2 linked regions of the Homo sapiens genome follow. The protein of the gene in region 1 interacts with the protein of each later gene in a pairwise test. Each region holds a gene or a part of one and is shown in the gene's direction. Other genes may lie near its edges. The genes, in order: C2orf42 and ECT2.

What was found.
Region 2: the proteins of C2orf42 (region 1) and ECT2 interact in a two-hybrid assay, tested with the Homo sapiens proteins (one large-scale study listed by BioGRID).

The regions. Positions count from the first base shown.
Region 1 is NC_000002.12:70,188,161-70,192,472, reverse strand, and holds the start of C2orf42 (uncharacterized protein C2orf42), read left to right. Parts: upstream 1-1,453; 5' UTR 1,454-1,500; exon of another isoform or gene 1,501-2,289; intron 2,290-4,312.
Region 2 is NC_000003.12:172,764,132-172,767,949, forward strand, and holds part of ECT2 (protein ECT2), read left to right. Parts: intron 1-146; coding exon 147-369; intron 370-3,818. UniProt on the Homo sapiens protein: Guanine nucleotide exchange factor (GEF) that catalyzes the exchange of GDP for GTP. Promotes guanine nucleotide exchange on the Rho family members of small GTPases, like RHOA, RHOC, RAC1 and CDC42.

The DNA.
Region 1 (4,312 bases):
GTGCCTAAACTCCAAAAGAGGGAGTATAAGGAGGCATGTCCGACCTCCCTTTCCACCCAGGAGAATTCAGAATTCAGTTTAACATCCCCTTGGCCAAGGGGTGAGGGTTCATTCAGTTGGCTGTGGGGCATGGGATTTTATTTTTAGTTTACATAATAAATGGAAAGAAAACTAAAAAGTCTTCTGGAAAAATTGTGTCCCTCTCCCTCTCTTTCCAGTTTAAGAACTAATACTACAAACATTAGTCCTGGAATGTTCCATTTCTCTTTTTTTATTTTATTTATTTATTTTTTAGACGGAGTCGCTCTGTCGCCAGGCTGGAGTGCAGTGGCGCGATCTCAGCTCACTGCAACCTCAGCCTCCCAGGTTCAAGCGATTCTCCTGCCTTAGTGCCCCGAGTAGCTGGGACTACCCGCACGCGCTACCACGCCCAGCTAACTTTTTTTTTTTGTATTAGTAGAGAGACAGGGTTTCACCATGTTGGCCAGGATGGTCTCGATCTCTTGACCTTGTGATCCGCCCGCCTCGGCCTCCCAAAGTGCTGGGATTACAGCCGTGAGCCACGACGCCCGGCCGGAACGTTCCACTTCTCTTATAAATAGTTGACTAAGGTTTCCCAATAGTAAATTAACCTGCTACCACTAGTAAGTAGCCAGACTAGGGTCAGGAGAGCAGAAAACCTCATTCCAGGGTTTTCCAACACAGTGGCCTCACCATGAACACATTGCACTCGGGAGCTATCTTCAATCATGAACGATGAGCATTTAGATTTATTCCGTGATTCCAAGGACCAGAACTAAGATATACAGGAAGCTCTTTTTTATCTCATTTTAAGAGAAAACGTTCAAGTGTAGTTCAAAGTGTACTTAAGGGAGAAAAAGTTAACTTGTCATAAACATACATGTGATAGAGGTGAATACTCAGGTGGGCAAGAACCTCCAAACAAACTCCAAATTCGCAGCTGACATCTGCTAATAATGTAGAAAATCTCGGGCGATTTTTTTTTTAATTTTCATTTTTTGTAAGGACAGGGTCTCGCTATGTCGCTCAGGCTGGTCTCGAACTCCTAGCCTCAAGAGATCCTCCGCCTCAGCCTCCCAAAGTGCTGGGATTACAAGCGTGAGCCACCACGTCCAGCAACTCAAGTCATTTTTGCATCAATTACCAGCAAAAGTCTATTCAGAAATAGGACTCTCTCAGGCCAGAAGGGAGTCAAGACGAGCCTTGGAGGTGAGCGCCCAGTAAGATAGGCCAGAAGCACTCCAACTCCAAGGCAGAGCCTGAGCTTTACAGCCGCTAGGTCGGCGTATGTTCTACCACCGCATTCCCCCAGTGTCTCAGCGGTCTCTGAAGGAGAGAACTAAAACTCCCATAAGACAACGCGAGCTCAGGTGGGCGGCCACTTGCCGCGCGTGGGCGGCTCTGACCAATAACGATTGTCGTTACAGCGAACAGTTTGGCCCCGTTTGTAAAAGGCCGCGGCAGGCGAAGAGAGAAGAGGTGAGGGCGGTCGTCAGCTAAGGGCCCCGGGGCTCGCGGGGGGTGCGCAGGGCAGGTAAGGGGGTAGTGCTGAGCAAGGACCGGGGCGGCGGTGGGGCAGGGGTGTAGAGCTCGGGTTCCCAGCGGAAAGCATGTCCAAGGAGCGGCTGCCGGCGAGGTGATGCTTCTGCCTGGGCCTACTTGGGACCGGAAGTGAGCGCTCGCGCGGGGAGGATGCCGGGAAGCAGGTCCCAGGGGATATGTGTGTGTCGCTGCAGACCCATCCCGGAAGCCGGCCGGGAGGTGAGCGTCCCGGAGTCGGGCGGCCGCTCCGTTGACTGCAGGGCCCCGGCGGTCTTCCTCCGCTGTTCCGAGGCCGTTGAGGGCTGATGTGCTCCATCCTCCCACTTGTGGTTTGGCAAGCCATCCAGCCGACTACAAACCCACGTTTGTGAGTTACCTGCTGGCTGTGACGCTTCCGTCAAATCTGAGTAACAGTTTCCTCATCTCTAAGATGGGTAACATAGTATCTACCTCACAGGATCGTGTGGGCAGTACATGCATAGAAAGGATTTAACACGCAGTGTACTCAGCTAGTTTTATTATTTATCCGTAATGATCATTTGTTCTTTTCCCCTAACTGTGCCTCACAAGCATGAAACAGAATCCACCAAACATTTAGGTCTGGGTAGTGGTTGGATGGAAACCCATCGCGGGTTAACGCTTCCAACACCAGTCCCTTGACACTCTCCCGCCGAGGAGGCTGATTTGTAAACTTGCTGAGAAGAGAATACCCAGCAGATCTTTCAGGTTTCAAATCCACGTTCTTTACAAGTTGTGTTAATTGTTTGTATATGCTTTCGATATAGAGTCTCTAGGAAGTAATACTAGTACATGTTTTAAAATTCAAATACTGCCAAACAGTGAGATGTAAGTCTCCCTCCTAACTTCTGTTTCCCAAATCCCATGTCGTTTCTTCTGATGCAATAGACATTGTATGTGTGTGTGTCTAGATAGATACATATGTGTATCTCTCGTCTTTTTTTTTTTCTTTTAAAAGAGTAAAACCAAGAATAGCATATTACAAAGTGCTGCACTTTTTTCACTCCACAGTGTATCTTTTTTTTTTTTTAAGAGACAGGGTCTCACTATGTTGCCCAGGCTGGTCTTGAACTCCTGAGCTCAGTGATCCTCCCGCCTCAGCCTCCCAAAGTGCTGGGATTACAGGCGTGAGCCACCACGTCCAGCTACTCAGGCCATTTTTTTTTTTTTTTTTTTGAGACGGAGTCTCGCTGTCGCCCAGGCTGGAGTGCAGTGGCACGATCTCGGCTCACTGCAGGCTCCACCCCCCAGGGTTCACGCCATTCTCCTGCCTCAGCCTCCCTAGTAGCTGGGACTACAGGCGCCCGCCACCTCGCCCAGCTAATTTTTTGTATTTTTAGTAGAGACAGGGTTTCACTGTGTTAGCCAGGATGGTCTCGATCTCCTGACCTTGTGATCTGCCCGCCTCGGCCTCCCAAAGTGCTGGGATTACAGGCGTGAGCCACCGCGCCCGGCCCATTTTTTTTTTTTTTTTTTTTTTTTTTTGAGATGGAGTTTCTCTCTTGTTCCCCAGGCTGGAGTGCAATGGCACGATCTTGGCTCACCGCAACCTCTGGCTCCCGGGTTCAAGCGATCCTCCTGCCTCAGCCTCCGGAGTAGCTGGGATTACAGGCATACGTCACCACGCCCGGCTAATTTTGTATTTTTAGTAGAGATAGGGTTTCTCCATGTTGTTCAGGCTGGTCAGGAACTCCCGACCTCAGGTGATCCGCCTGCCTCGCCTCCCAAAGTGCTGGGATTACAGGTGTGAGCCACCGTGCCCGGCCATGCCATTTTTTTTTAAACAGCTGTAAAAATATTTTATTTTCTGGGAAGTATTCCATTTTGTAGGCATACCATAATTAATTACACCAGTATCTTCTTGAGGGACATCAGGTTGTTTCTTATATTTTGCTGCTACAAATATTCTTCATTGAGTTGCCTTATAATTTCCCTCATTTCACACATGTGGGAGTCAGTCTGTAAAATAAATTCTTAGTAGTGTAATTGCTGGGTCAGAATATCAAATCAAAATATACTGATTCCAAATATGCAAGGAAGATATCAAACAAGCTCAAATTGAGGGACATTTTGTAAAATATTCGACTCTTCAAAACTGTCAAGATTAGGAAAAAGAAAGACAAACTCACGGACTTGAGGGGACTAAGGAGACGTGATGACTCAATGCAATGTGGTATCTTGGATTTGATCCAGAAACAGAAAAAAGGGGCAAAGTCTAGAGTTCAGTTAATAATAATGTGGCAATGTTGGTCCCTTGGTTTTGACAAATGTCCCATGTTTATATATGATGTTAACATTGGGAAACTGGGTGAGTGGTGTTTGGGAACTGTGTTCTATCTGCCACTTTTCTGAAAATCTAAAATTAGTCTAAAAGATTTATTCTTTTTTAAAAGGGAGATTGAGGCCAGGCATAGCGGCTCACGCCTGTAATCCCAGTACTTTGGGAGGCCGAGACAGGCAGATCACTTGAGGTCAGGAGTTCGAGACCAGCCTGGCCAACATGGAGAAACCCCGTCTCAACTAAAAATACAGAAAAATTAGCCGGGCTTGGTGGTGGACGCCTGTAATCCCAGCTACTCAGGAGGCTGAGGCAGGAGAATTGCTTGAACCCGGGAGGCAGAGGTTGCAGTGAGCCAAGATCACGCCACTGCACTCCAGCCTGGGTGACAGAGCAAGACTCCGTCTCAAAAAAATAAATAAAATAAAAAGGGGCATTAGTGGACAACTGGTA
Region 2 (3,818 bases), on another chromosome or scaffold:
CTTTTGAATTGCCTGGTAGAGTGTAGGGTTATAAAATTATTGTGCAAAATCCAGATTCTGTCAGACTTGTAAATATATTTTTCTCTTGTTCCTGTCTCAGTAAAGAACCATGGAAGTAAATTGAGCTTGTGTGCTTTTGATTACAGGCAAATACTCCTGAGCTCAAGAAATCAGTGTCAATGCTTTCTCTAAATACCCCTAACAGCAATCGCAAACGACGTCGTTTAAAAGAAACACTTGCTCAGCTTTCAAGAGAGACAGACGTGTCACCATTTCCACCCCGTAAGCGCCCATCAGCTGAGCATTCCCTTTCCATAGGGTCACTCCTAGATATCTCCAACACACCAGAGTCTAGCATTAACTATGGAGGTAATTCACATTCTTAAAAACTTGTCTTTAAAGTTTAGTGGAATGGAATAATTGTTAGAATTTAGATAAATCCCTGATATAGTGAATATGGAAGTCTTTGCCTTTAATTACCTTTGTTCTAGCTGTAGAGAAAAGACACATGAATAGTTAAGCTTAATAATGTTGCAATTTAATGACTGCTTACTACATGCTAAATGCTTTATACGTTTTGTGTGTTTATAATAGATTTTATTATTCCTGTTTTACAGATGACTAAACTGAGATACAGAGAAGTTAAGTAATTTCTCCAGGGTCATATAACTAGAGAGTGATAGTGCTGTTCAAAAAGCAAACAAAGTCACAGGGGAGGTCACATAAATTATGGAGAAAATAGGTAGAATGAAGTCAGAGGAGGGTGAGTTCACTTTGTGCTGAACTGATACAGAAAGGCTCCTATAATTCTTCCTTGGTTATCAGTATTTCCCTTTCTTTTTGATTTTTAGTCTGTAAACAAATGTGTTTTCTAGATTTAAGAAACAAAAAAAATCAAAATCTCCTCCGGACCTCATGACACTTTTCACTTATTGTCCCATTTTTCTGTTTGCTTTCACATCAGCATACTTAAAAGAATTACTTTGATCTATTGTCTCATTTCCTTGATTCTCGTTGTCCTTTCAACGCATTCCAACTGATCTGCAGTCCTTGTTGGGGAGACAGTTTTTATGCATTCAACACATGAATAGCTACTCCTTTATGGACACAATTTTTTTTCTTTGCTTCTGTGATATTACTTACTCATTTCTCATTCTCCTTGGCCTAACTTCTTTTTTTCAATTCTAAATGTTGTATGTTCCTCCTGAGTCATTGTTTCTTCTCTATTGTACTCTCCCTAAATTATCGTAGTAAAATCTATGGTTTTGAAAAGCATTTGTATGCTGATGACTCCCAAATTTGTCCTCTTCCCTGTCAAGCTACCTACTTTGTACTTCCTTGTCCATGTCTAATAGATATCTTAAACCTAAGATAACCAAATTAGACCTTTGGATTCTGCCACTCTTAATTCCTCTGTTCCTTTGCTCCTCTTCATCAGTCTTTTCTGTAAAAAGGATCTCTCTTAGATGATTGCAGTAGTCTCCTAAATAGTCTCTCCCTTTTAATTTGTGCCTTTCTATATGCAACACTTAGAAAAATCTTTAAAAATATATAAATTAGATGATGCCACTCCTCTGCTTTAAAATCACTTAATGGCTTTCTATTACTGTAGCTTTTAAGTCCCTATGTAATCTTGCCCTCATCTGCCTAATCTCATGTGGTATTATGCTCTCTAATAATGCCTGTACTCTCTAAGCTTCAGTCATACCATCTTTGTTATTCTTCAAATATTTTTAGTACATCCATACCTCAGGACTTTGTTACTTTCTCTGCCTCAAGGAAATCTGCGTGGATTGTCTGTAAAGTTAAATCCCTCCACTCCTTTCTGCCAATCCTGTGACCTGGTAGTTGTTTTTAGTAGTAGTTCTTACGATAGAAATTACAGTACTTGTTTACTTCTTTATTATTTGATTTGCTTCAAATAAGTAATCTTTAAGAGAAAATGAACCTTGTCTGTCTTATTCTGTGTTTATCCTCAGACCCTAGTATAAAGTGGGTATTCACTAAATACTTAAGGGAAGAACTGAAAGTGAATTCAAGGTTGGCCCAGAAATTTGAAATGAATTTGAGAATATAAAGAGGAGCAAATATACAGATAATAGCATACAAACTGAGTTTTTAGAGAATAATGGATAGATCAGTTTGCTTGGAATGTGGAGGAATAAAAGTTAAAAATGTTAATTGAGGCCTAATATTAGGTCACTTTCAAATAAGACTGTAATATCTGAACTGTATATTGTCATCAACAAGGAATTTTAGAAACTCCTTGAGCAGCAGAGAAATTGATTGAATAGATAATTCATAGAGAGTTGTTCTGAAGAATGATTAGAAGGAAGGCAGTTTGGAGACAGTCAGACCATGATGTAATCTATTACAATCGCTTCGGCCATGAAATAATAAGGTGCTGAACCAGAGTATGTGGTGGTTGGAAAGAAAAGTAAGAAGCACTGGAGAAATATTGGTAGAATAAAGCAATAGGGAGGAAATAAAAAGAGATGAAGGCAAATTACTAATTTAAATGAAAGAAATGTTGCCTTGGCATGGATAGGAAATTTATATTTTGGAGGGAGGTAGTGAAGTTTTAGAGAAATCCAAGTTACATTAAGGCAGAACTATCCAGTAAGCATTTGGAAAAGTTGAACCAGCTTGAGAGGGAGATCATGATTAGATCTGAGAATGTACTAGTTTTATAATCATAATGGACAATAGCATGGGATGGTAAGAGGAGAACATAAAGGACTGAAACTTGAATATGCATTTTAGGAGACAAGAGAACAAAATGAACCACCGAAGTAAACAGATGTGACAACTATACTGATATTTTAGGTGCTCTGTAAAATAGATTCCCCAGTTTGTAGGTCATTGTCTAGACACAGAATAATTAAATTAGATCAGTGCATCTCAATTTTTTCCCACTGAAGTATATTCTGTAATGGCAGAGGCTTCTGGGTCTGGTGAGTGTAGCCTAAAATAATGTTTGACAAGTGGGAAATTTTTTGAGATTCTGTTTTTTTTAAAAAGCACTCAGGGGCTGGGCGCGGTGGCCCACGCCTGTAATCCCAGCACTTTGGGAGGTTGAGGAGGGCAGATCACGAGTTCAGGAGTTCGAGACCAGCCTGACCAACATGGTGAAACCCCATCTCTACTAAAAATACAAAAATCAGCAGGGTGTGGTGGTGTGCGCCTGTAATCCCAGCTACTCAGGAGACTGAGGCAGGAGAATCACTTGAACCCGGGAAGTGGACGTTGCAGTGAGCCGAGATGGCACCACTGCACTCCAGCCTGGGGGACAGAGTGAGTCTCCATCTCCAAAAAAAAGCACTCAGAACTCCATAGTACATAATTGTTTTCATATAAAAGCATTTAAAATTGTTTATCATTGAGTAAAATTGATGTGCTGGAAATATATATTATGGTTCTTTGTCACCTATTTCTATTTTATGTCATACATTCCTTTTCCTGTTGAAAAACTTGCTATTAGGTGCTTCTATATATAATGTTAAAGTATTCTAACCATATTAACAGTAAGAAAACAGATTTTAAGCTTTTATACATTAAAAAGATGTATATATATCTATAGATATGTGTATAGATTTTTTTTTTGAGACGGAGTCTTGCTTGGTCGCCAGGCTGGAGTGTGGTGGCGTGGGAGTGTGGTGGCAGGATCTAGGCTCACTGCAACCTCCACCTCCTGGGTTCAAGAGATTCTCCTGCCTCAGCCTCCTGAGTAGCTGGGATTACAGGCATGTACCACCACGCCTAGCTAATTTTTGTATTTTTAGTAGAGATGAGGTTTCACCATGTTGGCCAGGCTGGCC